Homo sapiens: one gene and its partner. The protein of the gene in region 1 interacts with the protein of each later gene in a biochemical or structural test. Each region holds a gene or a part of one and is shown in the gene's direction. Other genes may lie near its edges.

The links.
Region 2: of the proteins of PPP3CA (region 1) and KCNIP3, one has a biochemical effect on the other in vitro, tested with the Homo sapiens proteins (one study listed by BioGRID).

What each region holds. Positions count from the first base shown.
Region 1 is NC_000004.12:101,056,865-101,064,936, reverse strand, and holds part of PPP3CA (protein phosphatase 3 catalytic subunit alpha), read left to right. Parts: intron 1-1,579; coding exon 1,580-1,705; intron 1,706-3,775; coding exon 3,776-3,850; intron 3,851-8,072. UniProt on the Homo sapiens protein: Calcium-dependent, calmodulin-stimulated protein phosphatase which plays an essential role in the transduction of intracellular Ca(2+)-mediated signals. Many of the substrates contain a PxIxIT motif and/or a LxVP motif.
Region 2 is NC_000002.12:95,369,904-95,377,975, forward strand, and holds part of KCNIP3 (calsenilin), read left to right. Parts: intron 1-4,392; coding exon 4,393-4,517; intron 4,518-4,944; coding exon 4,945-5,014; intron 5,015-5,234; coding exon 5,235-5,305; intron 5,306-8,072. UniProt on the Homo sapiens protein: Calcium-dependent transcriptional repressor that binds to the DRE element of genes including PDYN and FOS. Affinity for DNA is reduced upon binding to calcium and enhanced by binding to magnesium. Seems to be involved in nociception.

The sequences.
Region 1 (8,072 bases):
GGCCTTACCATTCACAAGTACAAGTTTAGTTAAATGCAGGCTGCTAAAAACATCAACATATTGTTAGGCTACAATATGATATATATAGTATCCACACCACAGAAAATGATATATTCTCCCCATACTCTGCACTGTTCAAACCAACCTAGATGATTATATTACTTCTGGGCCACATTTTAACAGAGACATTGCCAATCTGGCATGCATTCAGAATAGGTTGAGCAGGCTGAGCTAAAGCATCAAGAAGCCATGTCATATTAAAGAGGGCGAAAGGGGATAAAAATAATTTGCTTGAAAAAGATTGTAAGGCAGATACCAAGATGTGTCTCCAGCTCCTGAGCATCCATTCTGAGTAAAAACAAAAAAGTAAAGAAATGATTACTTTTTCTGTATTTTCAACCCCATAACATAAGCAAGAAAAGATCATATGATATCATATAAAATCTGTTGGTTACTGTCTTCTAATGTAATACAAATTATGCCCTGAATAGATAATAAAAATGAAATCTTGCCAAAGCCTAAGAAGGTATGCTTGAGTATCATATTTAATATTTAAAAGGCTGTCATTCAGAAGCAGAATGACATTAAATATTAAATATGAAATGCATAGCAAAACCATGATCAGTGACTGGTAAAGGCAGGTTTAAATGCAACCTGAGAATTTCCTGCAACTTCAAATTGTCTATCCATAGAATAGGTGACCTCATTAAAACAGGTGACTTTTCCTTTATTGAAAGTACTCACAGAGACATGAAGCATGCAGATTTGTCTTCCTGAGTCATGGATGGACATCTTTTTCAGAAATCAAGGATAGAGTCAGATAGAAGCACATTATTTTATGTGGGATTCAATCCAAACATTTTATTTTATTAAGTCAAGAAAGCAGTCTACTATAGGGTAACTATAGTTAACGATAATAGATTATAATTTCAAATAGCTGGAAGGAGAATATTGAATGTTCCAAATACAACTAAATGATAAATGTTTGATATGGTATTTAATGTATAGCTAATTACCCTGATCTGATTACTGTGCATTATATGTGTCAAAACATCACTATGCACCCCATAATTATGTACAATTATTATATTAATTTAAAAAATAAAGTAAAAATTAAAGCAATCTAACTTAAACTATTTTGTACAACTGTTGGGAGTTCTATTGAAGTTTTACTTTTTAAAAATAAATTCATTCAAATATTTGAGGAGATTATTATGTCAAACTTAGCTGTGCCACTTTTATTAGTGTCATCAGATATCAAATTTTAAGACCAAAGTATTCTTGGCTGAAAGGGGAGCTTGAATCAGTTCCTGACAGACATTGGATTAACTATTTTGTGTAAATATTTTCCAATTTGTTACACAATTACATATTAATTATTCATATATTGTGCAGTTATATATTACCCTGAGTAAGGTTTAAGTCCATAAGTTGTATAAGCATTCTGGGATGCCTAAGGTGTGAGCCTGGATGTTTTGGAACTTCAGTCAAATGGTTGAATTTTCTTGATGAGCTAAAGCCATACATAGAAGCAGAAATATGTTCTGTGTTCCTAACATCCTCTTTTGGTTATTTTTAGCTGCAGTATTGAAGTATGAGAACAATGTTATGAATATCAGGCAATTCAACTGTTCTCCTCATCCATACTGGCTTCCAAATTTCATGGATGTTTTTACTTGGTCCCTTCCATTTGTTGGGGAAAAAGGTATGTTGTGGAATCCTGAGATGTTCTTCTTAAAATAGTTTAGGAAGGAAGGAAAGGAGATTAAACACTCAGAAAGAGAAGAACTTTGGCCCAGCCAATAAAATTCACAAGTTGTACAATGAAAGATGTGATTTGGAAGTGGCAGTGTGTCACTCTGTATCCTATTAACAGGACACAATTGGTGAATGAGGGGGAAGCAAAAAAAAAAACAAAACACAGGAATATTTAGGAAATTTTTACAATCTTATTAGAATAATATAACGCTTTAAAAAATAATGGAAATACAGGTTTACCTGGTTTCAAGTAATGTCTACCCTTTTTCCTTACCCATTTGTACTATAATCCCAAAGGACTATTTAATTTTACAAATTATCTGCCAAATTAAAAGATTAGGATAGCCATGCTCTCCTTACATTTCTGATGTTAATAAATTATTGTACGATAGTGCTTAATGGCTACAATATTTTGAAGAACAACATGTACAACAGCAAAGTAGTTCATCAATAATGTAGGCATTAGCGCATTATAAGGTACAGAACAGGAGACAAATTTACATTTTAGAAAGTTATTTGTTAACTTTCTTCCTACCTTCCTTCTTTCCTCCTTTGTTTTGCTTTCATATGTTGACTTAAACCCCAACAAAAATTTTGGGGAAATGTCTGCACCAATTGTTTTTCATTCAGGAGGCCTAACAGTGATACACGGATTGATTCTCATGTATCTTCTCATACTTTCCATGAGAAGGTGAATGGGCATTGTAAGAAAAATAAATGTTCCTATAAGTATCAGAGTAATGATGTTCTATGAGGAGTATCAGAGAAAAGCTAAATATTTTTCTGAAACCCTAATGGTTGTTTTCCCTTTAAATGCCCTAAAATGATTAAACCAGTCAAGTTATGAGTTGTTGGCAAAGAAGCCTTCCCTTTGAATATCAAAATAATCAAAAGTAAATTTTTAATAATCTCTGATAAATATTCCCAATACTACTCCATATTGCAACTTTCTTGCACTGATCAAATTGGAGTAGTGTCATCTGTTGGCTTCGCTGGAAACAGAAGCAGTGTGGATGCTGACAACTATGGGGCACCTTTTGAACATCCTTTATTTGGGTTGTTTCTATTAATTATTAAAATTTGGGACATTTATTAGAAATTAACATATTAATCTATTGGTACACAAAATCCAGTTTTGATAATTAAACTGAAACTCTGGATCAGTGTTGGCTCTATTGAAGTTTGACTCTCTATCATTCATCTTCAATTCTAGAAGGACATTTTTTTAAATAGCATATTACTTTAAAAAGTAGCTCTCAAAGAAGCAGTAGACAGGCTTCTTTTCACATGCATGGTAGAATCCAATCTAATTTCAAAAAATATTAAATGTAAATAGCATGGTTTATAGTATAAAAATAATGCAGTACTAATTTCCTCTGTACAACACTTTTATGTAATCCTATTGTAATCTATTAAGTAAATTTCTGATTAAACTGCAACTGTTTAATTTTTTAAGCATTTTTGAAAATCAAATTTAATGATATTTCTGTCAATACATTTTTAAAATTAGTATTCTGAAAAATACTTCAAATATATTAGTTTATCAATCAACAGTTTGTATTAAACACAAAACCACATGCCTATAATGGCGTGAAGTTCTCTAGGTGATTAAAAATATAAGAAAAATCATCATTCTTAGTCCCTACTGAACAGAAGTTTGTAATCTGATCTAGATTAAGCCTTATCATTGTGTGACTAATAAAAATTCAAAAAAACTATTTTCTCTTTCATTGATTTGTAGTATATTCACATCCACATATTTGATTTGTCATTGTCTATTGACCTAGAGCTAGTAAATGTTACCATTAGATATCATAAGCATCAGCTAATAGTTTCATAAAGTCTGCATAGAATCACAAAGGCTGTCTTTTATGATCTGGATGTTTACTGAAACTGCTTCTATATACAAACTAAATAAGAAATGTTATTGCTAAGTTTGCTCATTAACAATGCCAGAGTAATAGTTAAGGTTATAACAGAAAACCCTGACTTTTCTTTCTTTGCTTTCTCTCTTTAGTGACTGAGATGCTGGTAAATGTCCTCAACATCTGCTCAGATGATGAACTAGGGTCAGAAGAAGATGGATTTGATGGTAAGAGGCTTGAGCCTTTGTGCTAATGCTATTTGCCAGATAATTACTTAGAGTCTCATTGCTAAATCTAAGAATAAATTTCTAAGATTTGGATTATGTTTAAAACGTAACATTATTGAGAATAAAAGATATGATTTCATTTTCTGTTTACTTTTTAAAAGTATAAGAAACAAATATCATGAGAATTTTCTCATTACTTTAAAAACATTGTTAAAGTAGTAAACTGTTTTAATAAGCTTTCAGTAGCTCACATTGCTAAGTGACCTTTTTTGGCTTTTTGATACAAATTTAATCCTTTATTTTCTAACAGATGTTACCAATTACTGGACAATTATTTTTTCTTTTACCAGGCAATTTAAAAATGTCCTCTAATGGGGTTGCTCACATCAATTATTCAAGTTTTGATGTTTATGATGAAAAAGGCATTTACATATTGATATATTGGTATTTATTTCAATCCCAATATTTCTTCTTTCTGTAGTAATAGGTAATGAATAAACTGTGAGGAGTTTTTTATGTTTTTTAAGATATTACTTGGTGTTTAATTACCCTCAAAGGGTATGCTTTTTCTGCAAGAGGCACAGATCCATGAAGTTAAAGATGAAGGGGAAAATTACCCTGAGTCTTACAAAAGCACCTCAAAATGAATGGAAACTGACAAAAATGTACTTAGAGAAGAAAAGCATAAGAGCAAACTTTACTGCATTTAAGAAGTACAGTTGAGGCCGGGTGCAGTGGTTCCTAGCACTTTGATAGGCTGAGGCAGATCACTTGAGACCAGGATTTTGAGACCAGCCTGGGAAACCTAGGGAGAATTCATCTCTACAAAAAATTAGCCATGTGTGGTGGTGCATGATTGTGGTCCTAGCTACTCAGAAGGCTAAAGTGGGAGGAAATCTTGAGCCCAGGAGGTTGAGACTGCAGTGAGCCATGGTCATACCACAGTACTCCAGCCTGGGTGACAGAGCAAGATCCCATCTCAAAAATAAAAGCAGTACAGTCAGCCCTCCGTATCTGAGGGTTCTGCATCCATGGATTCAAACAACCTCAGATTGAAAATAATTCAAGAAAAAGTTGCATCTATACTGAACACATACAGACTTTTTTTCCTTGTCATTTTTCCGTAAATAATACAGTTTAACAACTATCTACATAGCATTGACATTGTGTTCAGTATTGTTAAGTAGTCTGGAGATTAAAGTATACTCAGAGGTCCTAGATTCAGGACACCCAGGGCTACAAGATGCATTAAAAACCTATTCTTTGAAGAAGTTGCAAACTGGTTGGAGAGACTGATGCATAAACTAATAATATCAATAAAATGACACAAATTATAAATAAAGGGTGAAGAGGGCAAGGGAAACTAGATATTATGGTGAGTTTAAATGGATAAAATGTATACCTTTAAAAACTGCAGTTCAGTAAAATGAAAAGAGAATGTGGTCCTTTCTAAAAGTTGGTTTCCAAATGACATGATTTAATGTTTACCTGGGCTTGATACAGGTCATGGGTATAAATGCAAAATACCTAATGCTGCAGGCAAAAGTATAATAAACCTGTTCATACACTCATGTAAATAGAGTCTATATACTCAGGTAAATTTAATGTATGAGATTTATTTTTAACATCTCATAGTTTTTCTCCTCTATAACTTCTCTTGTCTTTATTACTTGTCTTCATATACTATTTTTGAGTCATATACCACATCGCAAGGAGATGTGCAACATAGGGAAGGAAAGGGGAAAATGGATATATTTAAAAAACAACTTTACTGGGCTAAAATTAAGAATATATAAGAACTTAAATATATTGGCATATTTTGAAATATGCAAGAGATCAATGGACATTTTGTGCTTTATCTAAATTCTAGATGTTTCATATGTTATAGCCACAGTTTGCTACTGTTATCTTTTAAATGATAGCACTGTTTTCAGAATGGCAGAAATTTTTTCCTAAAAGAATACTAACCAAATGGAACCTAAATCATAAACATCAACAAACGTTTTTCAGTATGTACCTTTCACTATATTCCTTTTATTCTTTAAAAGAAAGATTAACATTAATACAATAATAATCCCCTATTAATAAATGTTTGTTTTTTGCAAAGTCCACTGGCCAGTATTTATGATATAGAGAACAAAAATGTAACATACTGTAGAGAATAAGAATGTGTAGACCTACATATGTTTGTAATTTTTATGTTAATCCATTCACTCAGCAAATATATATTCAGTATCTACTAAGTACCAGGTACCATAGCCAAAATGACTGCACATTTCACTGGTACATGTTATTCCTGCACAGTTACCAACATTACCAAGACTAACCCTGTGCTTACTTCACTTCTAGTAAGTTCCCTTTACTCACCATCTCAATTACTTACATGAAAGGATTTGTTTTGTCAGTTACTTTATTTTAAAATAATTAGTTCTAATCAATGTGCTGTGCTCACCACCAATTGCTTTTTAAACTCTGTTTTAATTCCAATTGTAGGAGTGCATGTTTGTCTTAAGGTCCTTGGAAGAATTTTTTTCTTTCTAAGCAGACCCCTGAATTCCCCCTTTACCACTCTTTAAGTTTTAAGTCAGTCCTGCAGAGAAATTTTGTCCTACCAGGTGCAGGGAGGAAGATGGTCAGGAATGCCTAACCTGCTCTTACCAGCTAGAAAAGATGAGCTTTATCTCTCACTTTTGTCAACTTCCTTCAGTGGTCCATTCCTGTCAAGTTAAACATCATTAAGTTATTTATCTTTCTGAACAGTTTCTTCTGCTTTAATTTATTTCTGCTTAGCTATATTAACAATAAGATTTGTGTTTTCAAAATTTTAAGCAAAATTTACACACAGGCTAATTAAAGTATTCAATGCATATTAAAAGTCCTATGTGTCTATAACTTATCAGATTGGGAGCTAGCAGAAAGAGATAAGATTATTGCTATATAATTTTTAGGGATAGACAATTTAATTTCCTTGGTTTCCTGTCTCATGGACCTCACTTAACCAGTAGTATGTGGGTGTTTTTTCTACCTTTTTTCTCCATCTTATTTAAAATTTGTTGGTGTATTTCCCTTAGTCAAACTAAAGAGAAACAATCATCTAATCTTATGTTTTATTTCTTTTGTATATGTACATATGAGAGGAGGAGGAAGAAAGAGATGAGGAGAGGTGAAAAGAAAAGATCCTTCTGCCTGATTGGGCTTTGCCAGCATATGATAGCAGTGCAGGCCTTGGTTCCATGAGCAGCATCAGATTCAAATTTCATAGAAAAAGAGCCCAGAGGAATTGAAAAAGAGAAATTAAATTCAACAAGGAGAGGCATTGTATACATTATGCATTCACGATAGGTTATGATTGAGAAGAAGCTGGTGCTTTGGGAAAAACATATTAGGTTCTACATTTACCCTTTTTGAATAGTTTTCTCCTTTCTAAACAGGGTGATAATAGGAGAATGCTGAATGCCTCTCCATTGAATTTGGAAACTGCCGGGCCAGCATTAGTGTGGTATTGTCTGCCCACACTTTTCTAGATGCAAGTTTAAGATCATGTTCAGTGTGAACATTGAGGACTTTAGAGATCGGAGTCCGAAATGTGTCAAAGTTAATGTTAATAGATGCTGTCCTCATTTTGTAACTGTGACTTCTAAATGTGACCTTTTAGTTCATATCTCATAAATTTGCCATTTAAGAAGAAATACAGAAATGAAAGTTTTAAGTTTTAATTAAAAGTATATCTTGCTGGGTGCAGTGGCTCATGCCTATAATCCCAGCACTTTGGGAGGCCAAGGCCGGCAGATCACTTGAGGTCAGGAGTTGGAGACTAGCCTGGCCAACATGGCAAAACCTTGTCTCTACTAAAGATACAAAAAAAATAGGTGGGCATGGTGGTGCACATCCGTATTCCTAGCTACTTGGAAGGCTGAGGCACAAGAATCGCTTGAACCCGGGAGACAGAGGTTGCAGTGAGCCGTGATTGCACCAGTGCACTCCAACCTGGGTGACACAGTGAGACTGATTCAAAAAAAAAAAAAAGTATATTCTACTTAAGATATTATATATTTCAGTATAAGCAATCAGGAGTCCTAGCATTTAATGTAACATGACATCAAAACTGGATTTCCTCAAAGGGTTAGGGTTAGGGTGCTTAAAGATGCTCAAAGAATAATTTGTAAAGCTTCTCAGAAATCCTTGGTTTTCTTTGGGAATACTGTTTATTGACAACGTATAT
Region 2 (8,072 bases), on another chromosome or scaffold:
AACCACTGCACTCAGTCCATCCAGTGAATTTTTAATTTTAGGTATTGTTTTGTTCAAGCTTAGAAGTTCCATTTTGTTCTTTTATTATAGTTTTTAATTTTTCTATTAAGATTCTCATCTATTATGCTTTCTTTTCTTTATTTCTTTCAAAGTGTTGATAATAGTTGTTTTAAAGTTCTTTTCTAATAATTCTAACAAAAGTCTAATAATTCTGCTTATCCTTCATCTCTTTATTATGGTCACATTTTCTTGCTTCTTCTCATGTCTTTTTATTTTTTATTGTATGTTGGACATTGTGAAAGGGATAGTGTAGGCAATGGATTATATTGTTTTAATATAAATGCTAACAAATTTTGGTTTGGCATGTAGTTAAATTATTGGCCAACTCATGTGATCTTCACAGACTTTATTTTAGGCTTTGTCAGAGTAGGTTTGTTTTGACTTTGTCATTGGGTCTAGAGCATGCGCTTACTCAAGGATGTGGTTCACAGTCCTAAAGCATAGCTTTTCTGGGGTTTCAGCCAACACCTGAGATGCTTAGGGAGGTATCTCCACTCTGGCTGAGCCAGTACTCCAGTTTTCCCATCACTGCATGAATTCTCACATGTCCTTTCAAGTACCTTTTCCTGTGCTTATTGGCCAGTTGTATATCTTTTTTTGTGACACGTCCTTGTCTTTTGCCTGTTTACAAAATCGAGTTATTAGTCTTATGCTGATTTGTAGAAGTTAATTATGTATTCTGGAAATGAGTCCTTTGTCAGATACATATACTGGAGATATGTTTTTCCAGCCTGTGACTTGAGTTTCTTAATGACTTTATTATAAGGTTTGTGGCTATGCTTATATTTGTCATTGATTTTTTTTTCTTTTTTTTTGAGACGAAGTTTTGCTCTGTCAACAGGCTGGAGTGCAGTGGTGTGATCTCTGCTCACTGCAATCTCCAACCTCCTGGGCTCAAGCGATTCTCATGCCCCAGCCTCCTGAGTAGCTAGGATTACAGGTGTGCACCACCACACCTGGCTAACTTTTTTTTTTTTGTATTTTTAGTAGAGACAGGGTTTCGCCATGTTGGCCAGGCTGGTCTTGAACTCCTGACCTCAAGTGATCCACCTGCCTCGGCCTCCCAAAGTGCTGGGATTATAGGCGTGAGCCACTGCACCCAGCCTGTCATTGATTTCTACTCTTGTTTTTATTATGTTCTTTCTTCTATTTACTTTGAATTTAATTTGCTCTGCATTTTTTAGATTCTGACTCTTAGATCTAGAAGCTTATGTCATTGCTTTTACACCTATCTTCTTTTCTAATAAAGGAATTGAAAGCAATAAATTTCCCTGTCAGCCCAGCTTTACCTGCATCCAGCAAATTTTGATATGCTCTGTTTTTTTAATCATTCAATTCAAAATATCTCAAAATGTGATCACCTTGCAGTTTATTCTCTGACCTATGAGCTAATTAGAAATGTATTGTTTATTTCCAAATACTTGAGATTTTCTAAATATCTTGTCCTGAATTTTAACTTAGTACCATTGTGGTAAGAGTCTGTGTTCCAGCATCTGATATATATTGGTAACCTCAGGATATGCTCTTGAAAAGAATGTGTATCTACAATTATACAGTGTTCTATAAATATTAATTAGGTCAAATTGGTTGATGGTGTTTTTCAAACCTTTTATTTCGTCACTTGTCATACCATTTACTGGAAAGGGGTGCTAAAATCTTCCAATTATGATTGTGACTTTTTTGTTTCTCTCTTTAGTTCTGAATTTTTTGTTTTAGGTATTTTAAAGCTCTGTTACTAGGTGATGTCTGTTTTAGATTATTCTGCCTTCTTGATGAATTAATCCTTGTATCATTATAAAACATCCAGCTTTCTTAATGTTTTTCCATTCTTTTATTTTAAATCTTTTTTTTTTTTTTTTGAGATGGAGTCTCACTCTGTCACCCAGGCTGGAGTGTAATGGCGCGATCTTGGCTCACTGCAACCTTCGCCTCCTGGATTGAAGCGATTCTCCTGCCTCAGCCTCCTGAGTAGCTGGGATTACAGGTGCCCGCCACTGCACCCGGCTCATTTTTGTATTTTTAGTAGAGATGGGGTTTCACCATGTTGGCCAGGCTGGTCTTGAGCGCCTGACCTCAGGTGATCCACCCACCTCAGCCTCCCAAAGTGTTGGGGTTACAGGAGTGAGCCACAGCACCCAGCCTTAATATATCTTTGTATTAGGAGTATCCCTCTTGTAAACAGGATATAATTGGATCTTGCTTTTCCAGTCTGAAAAGTCTGCCTCTTAATCAAAGGATTCTTACCATCCATCCATCCATCCATCCATCCACGCTGCTGTGTGTACATCTGCTCCACGGCACAGTTCTCCCCAGTGTGCAGCCTCCATATTTTGCCTACCCATCCTGCCTGCCATAAACCCCTGAGTTGCCTCCAACTCTCCTGCCAAAAATGCTGTTGCTGTGAGCATCCTTGTGCAGGCCCCTGGGCAGGGGAAGAGTCTATGTGGGATGCTTGCCTGGCGTGGGATGCTGGTTTACAGGGTTTGCCTATACTTAATATGACTAAGGATTCGAGATACTACAGTATGTCTATATGGTGATGGGAATGATCCAGAAGAGGGGAAAAGGTGATGAGGAAAGAGTGGGAGACTTGGCTGGCACCGCTTGCCTGAGTAGGTGAGAGGGATCGGGACCCACTGCACAAGTGGCAGGTTTGCCTTTGCTGGGAGCAGGCACAGTTCAGCCATGGAGCAGGCAGGCGTGCAGACGTCTGGGCCAGGTGCAGGCAGGTGGGTAGGTGTGGGGTGAGGGCTTGGGGAAGTTTTCCTCCATGGCTTGTGTCTTCTCAGTGAAGTGGGAAGCAACCTGAGGGTAAGGATGGGAGAGGAGATACTGGAAACTTAAGGGGAAGGATGGTATGAAATAGTTATCTTGGAGATGGGGAGCATGTGTGGACCAAAGAAACAGCCCAATTGCTGAGCAGCTTTCAGGGTGCTCTTGTGGTTAGTGTGAGTGGGCAGTGCAGGCTGTCTTTCCCACCACGCTCTCGGGAGAGGCCTGGGTATGGAGCAAGCTCAGCACAGGACCAGTGCCCAGCACCATGCCAGGCACCACGGGCACAGGATGAGCTGTGCAGGACAGCTGCCCCTGAAGAGCTCACTGTGCAGTGGGAGAGGCAGCAGCCAGCACCAGAGTACCAGCCATGAGGGTGATTATGGATCACCACCATTCTGTGTGGCCCAGGGGAGACAGGGCGACGGTGCAGCGGGGCCCATGAGTCCTGGGTCTGTGGGAAGGTGGCGCTCTGTAATTATGCGAGGATGCTGCTCAGCAAGGTGTGGGCACTCAGTGCTGTTTCAGCCCTAGCTTTATTTTGCATTGTAAAAGTGATGCATGTCACACCAAAAGAAATTAGGAAAATGTTTTTTAAAATCATAAATAAAAAAGTAAAAATCACCTGAAATTGCACCTCCCCCTCAAATGTAGCCATGGTTAGTTAACAAGTTTGTGGTTTTTTTTTTTTTTTTTTTTTTTTTTGAGATGCAGTCTTGCTCTGTCACCCAGGCTGGAGTTCAGTGGCGCGATCGCGGCTCACTGCAAGCTCCGCCTCCCCGGTTCACACCATTCTCCTGCCTCAGCCTCCCGAGTAGCTGGGACTACAGGCGCCCGCCACCATGCCTGGCTAATTTTTTGTATTTTTATTAGAGACGGGGTTTCACCGTGTTAGCCAGGATGGTCTCGATCTCCTGACCTCGTGATCTGCCTCAGCCTCCCAAAGTGCTGGGATTACAGGTGTGAGTCACCGCACCCTGCCAAGTTTGTGTATTGTTTTTAAAGGACAGGTCTGATCCCTGCCCCCACAGCCCTGGAGGTTTAGCCTCCTAACCAGATGTGAATAACACCCCTCTGCCAACTGTAGCTGAACAGCATCGCCTTAGGCCTTGAGGGCCAAGGGAGGCACCCTCTCCATTCCTGGGGAAAGTCAGGGAGGGCCACATGGAGGAAGTGGTCTAGGAATTGGATACTGAAGTTCAAGTGTCCCTCATGCCTGTCTTGCTGTCTTTCCCCCTCCTATATCCCCTTGTTCAGTGCCTCTTTAGGACAAGAGCAGCTCCCACCTTGTCCCACTGTGCGGCTGACAGGGGGGCACACTGCAGGGGCTGCGATGGGGAGGCCCGCCCTGTGGGGGGCAGGAAAGCAGAGGCACAGCTCTTGTGTGGGCCACTCAGTCACACCCCCTCTGTGCAGTGCACAGCCTGTGTGGCTGTCCATGGTAGTCATGCAAAGAGAGTTCCTCCACCTGCTATTTTGGCCCATGCCCTGGCCACACTGGAGCAAGATGGAGGAGCAGGGCTACAGGCCTTACACTCTCTGGTCTGTGTCCCACTCCAGATAGCAGCGACAGTGAGCTGGAGCTGTCCACGGTGCGCCACCAGCCAGAGGGGCTGGACCAGCTGCAGGCCCAGACCAAGTTCACCAAGAAGGAGCTGCAGTCTCTCTACAGGGGCTTTAAGAATGTGAGTGTTCCCCATTCCCCCGGGAGAGGCCTTGGAGACCCTGGCTCAGGGAGACCTGGAAACTTCTCCATGCCACAGTAAATATCCCAGGGGCCTTTAAGGGGCTTATGTGTTGTGGGAAAGCTGTGTGGCGGGGGCAGGCTCCGGAATGGGCATCGCTGAGGCCGCCATGCTCCTCCCTCCGTGTCTTTGCTGCTGGTACAGAGGAGGAGGGTATGGGGGAGCAGTCACCCCCTTCCTATTCACCCCTCCTCCCTCTCACCCCACCTCTACCCAGGCTTTCCACAACCCAGGCCAGGGGGCCCCAGCAGTGCCACAGGCAGCAGGCAGCCCCCAAGGGGGTGGAGAGAGGCCAGCCAGGCACCATGCAGAGTCGGGCTTGGAGCTGGGGGTGGCCGAGGGCTGAGGGGGTGCCTTCCTGCTGCAGGAGTGTCCCACGGGCCTGGTGGACGAAGACACCTTCAAACTCATTTACGCGCAGTTCTTCCCTCAGGGAGGTGAGTCTGAGGCAGGGCAGCCCTGCTGTGTCCCAGTGTGGAGGGAGGGGACCCTCCTGCTGCCCCTTGCATCCTGGAGGCTTGGTGCTGCCCCTGTCCCGTGGGAAACAGGGACTCCAAGCCAGGACGCAGTTAGCACCCTCAGCTGGGGTTGCCTGGGGTGGGAGATGAGCCGCCAGGCAGCCCCGACACACCCCAGCCTCTTCCTTGCCCTCCCCAGATGCCACCACCTATGCACACTTCCTCTTCAACGCCTTTGATGCGGACGGGAACGGGGCCATCCACTTTGAGGTAGGTCCTCGCGGATTCCTCCCACGTGTCCTGCCCCTGTGGTTGCAGGAGTGAATCCTTACCCTGGCGTCACTGTCAGGGCTGTCGAGAGAGCCATGGTCCTGGGTGGGAAGGATCTTGTGAGTCACCCTGGGAATGAGTGGATGTGGCTGGCCCTGGGCCAGTGAGCTCTGGGGTGTTTGACTTTGCTGGGCCGGCACCACGTTCTCAGCCTTTTCTTCCATTTGAGAGTTTGCATCCAGCTCTGCCTGGTCAAGGGAGCCCCCGAGACACACACGGGTGGTAGTGACCCAGCGGGAATTTGCATTTTCAAAGGGATCAGGGCTTAACTCAGAGGCCTGGTTTGCTGACGGTGGGATGTGAGACCTCCATTTTCAGAATTTACTCCTTGTTACCCAGAAAATAGGCCAAAAATATCTAGAAAACATCCCAGCCGGAGCAGCCTCCAGGGCTCATCCCAGCTGGGCACTGAGAGCAAAGCCTGGTGTTACCCACTGGCGGAAGGAGAAGCCTGTCCCCCACCCAGACAGCTTCCCTGTGGGGTCCTGGCCTGGGCTCCTCCCCAGCCCCGCCACACAGGATCATTGGAGAGAGGCCCCATCTGCGGAGCCCAAGCCTCTAAAAATAGCTGCAGGCGAAAAGCTGAAACCGCTTTGGGGAGGAAAACCTTTCTGAGAGCCGGCTTGATCGATACCCCGACAGCTTGGCTTCCACTGGGCTAAGGGCAGCTAACAGGAAAGCACAGAGAAGCACATGGGGCCAGAAGGCCCCGGCCACACGGGGTAATAATAACTTGTCGATAAGCTGCGCGGGTTATTTTTATGCCGCAAGCCCGCCAGGCACACTGACGCTCCCCGCCTGCCCTGTGACCACAGGACCCCTCGACTCTGAGCCACACTCTGAGGGCTCTGCACATAGAAGCAGACCGTGTTTTCAAATCTTGTTTTCAGATTTGAAATACCAACCCCACAGCACACAGAAAACACCCGGTTAGCATGGAGGAGCCTCAGGGAGGACTCAAGGTCCTTTCCCTGCCCCTCTCTCCTGGGGTGCCCTTTAAGAGGCACCTGACACTTCAGGCAGTAAAGCATCTTTAGGAAACGGTGTAAGGGAGCAGGCGGGGTGCGAGTGGTTTTTCTTGTTCAGGAATGAGATGACTGAGAGGCTCGGCAGAGCCCCTGCTCATGGCAGTGCTCAGGAAGGTCACAGTCGCCCCTCACCTCCTGTGGCCATCACCCTCGCTGTCCTGAGGGACAGCCTTGTGGCCCTTTAAGGAAGCAGGTGGCAGCCCTCTGGGCTGGGTCTGTCAGTGGCTGTGCTGTGGCCCCTCTGCTGGGCACCTTCTCAGAAGATCACTCATCCCTGGCATCTTCCTGGGCCTTCTGCAGCTTCTCTGCACGTGAAACGAAGTCCTCTGGCTTCACGCAGGTACATTTACCTTGAGGAACTTCTCGATTTCAAAGTGTTCTGCTCTGGGAAGGAGGAGGGCACAAGCCCCCATGGCCCCATCCTGGGAGCCCCACAGACTGGGATCCCAGTGGTCACAAAGGATCCTGCCAGGGACGGAGGCACCAAATCTAGTCTGGAGAACACCGGGCCATCCTCACTGCCAGCCCTCAGAGCCTCCTACGTGCGTCTGTAATGCAAGGCAACCCTGCATGACACTGTCTGCAATGATTCTGTCCCTTTCTGTATATTCTTAGAGACAAGATGCATATTAGTTACAGTTTACTGATATGGTAAAAGGTAATACCCTCCCTCCGCTCACCAAAAAGAATAACCAAAAAGACCAAATCGGAAAACACACAGACCTCAACAGAGCCAAGCGGGCGATGCCATCCCCACACCCCACCTTGGAGTGGCTCCTGCTCCCATCCCCACGGACCTTCTGGGATTTGCCAGCAGCAGGGAGCCCCAGGTGAGCAGCGCCACACACAGATTTGCTGAACGCTCTGGCCACCAGGGCCTTTCTCGTGCAACTCATCTGGCTTGCCAGGACGTGCAGAGCTTCCAAAACGATTCCGTAGACTGTTGGGGCCTCTTCAGTGCCCAGGATCAAGTCAGGCCCAGTTTGGAAGTGGCAGCCAGGCAGGCATCTGGAGGTGCGGCCGCTTCTCTGTTACCTCCCCCGACAGTAAACTGCTCCATGTGCCAGTGGCCAAGCGGCATCCAGGGCCGTGTGAGGGCAGCCTGCAAGCCCAGCAACCACATGCGACTCCCACCCCCTCGCTGAGCACCTGCTCCGGGCTCTGCCGGGAGACCCTCCTGTGCACTCTTGTGCACCTTCACCTGGAAGTATGCTGTGTCACTGGAGCCCTCACCCTGCCTAGCCCCTGCCATGGGGACAGCCGTAGAACAGAGGCTGTGGATGTGACAGGGTTCCTACACTTTGGCATTCAGAGCATGGAGTTACAACTTGCCATGGTTGCACTGTGTATGGCCAAGGAATTTAGAACCAGCGTGCACTCAGACATGGGCTGGCTGGACTTGGGGTCATCTGTGTATTACCTTTATGAATGGAGACTAGCCAGTGGCCTAACAGGACATTCCCACCATCTCCTAGTACTGTCACTACTGTAGCCAACACACAGAGAGAGGCTAAGGGATACTGCATAGGGACATTCCTCAGCTGCTAGCAGCAGGCTCTGTGGCTGAACATGAGGGCTTCTCCGCAGCAGACAGACAGACCACCTGAGGGGCCCATGTCAGCTGAAGATAAGGTGGAGGACAGCGGTGCCTGCCCAGGGTCCCCAGGAGAACGGTGTGC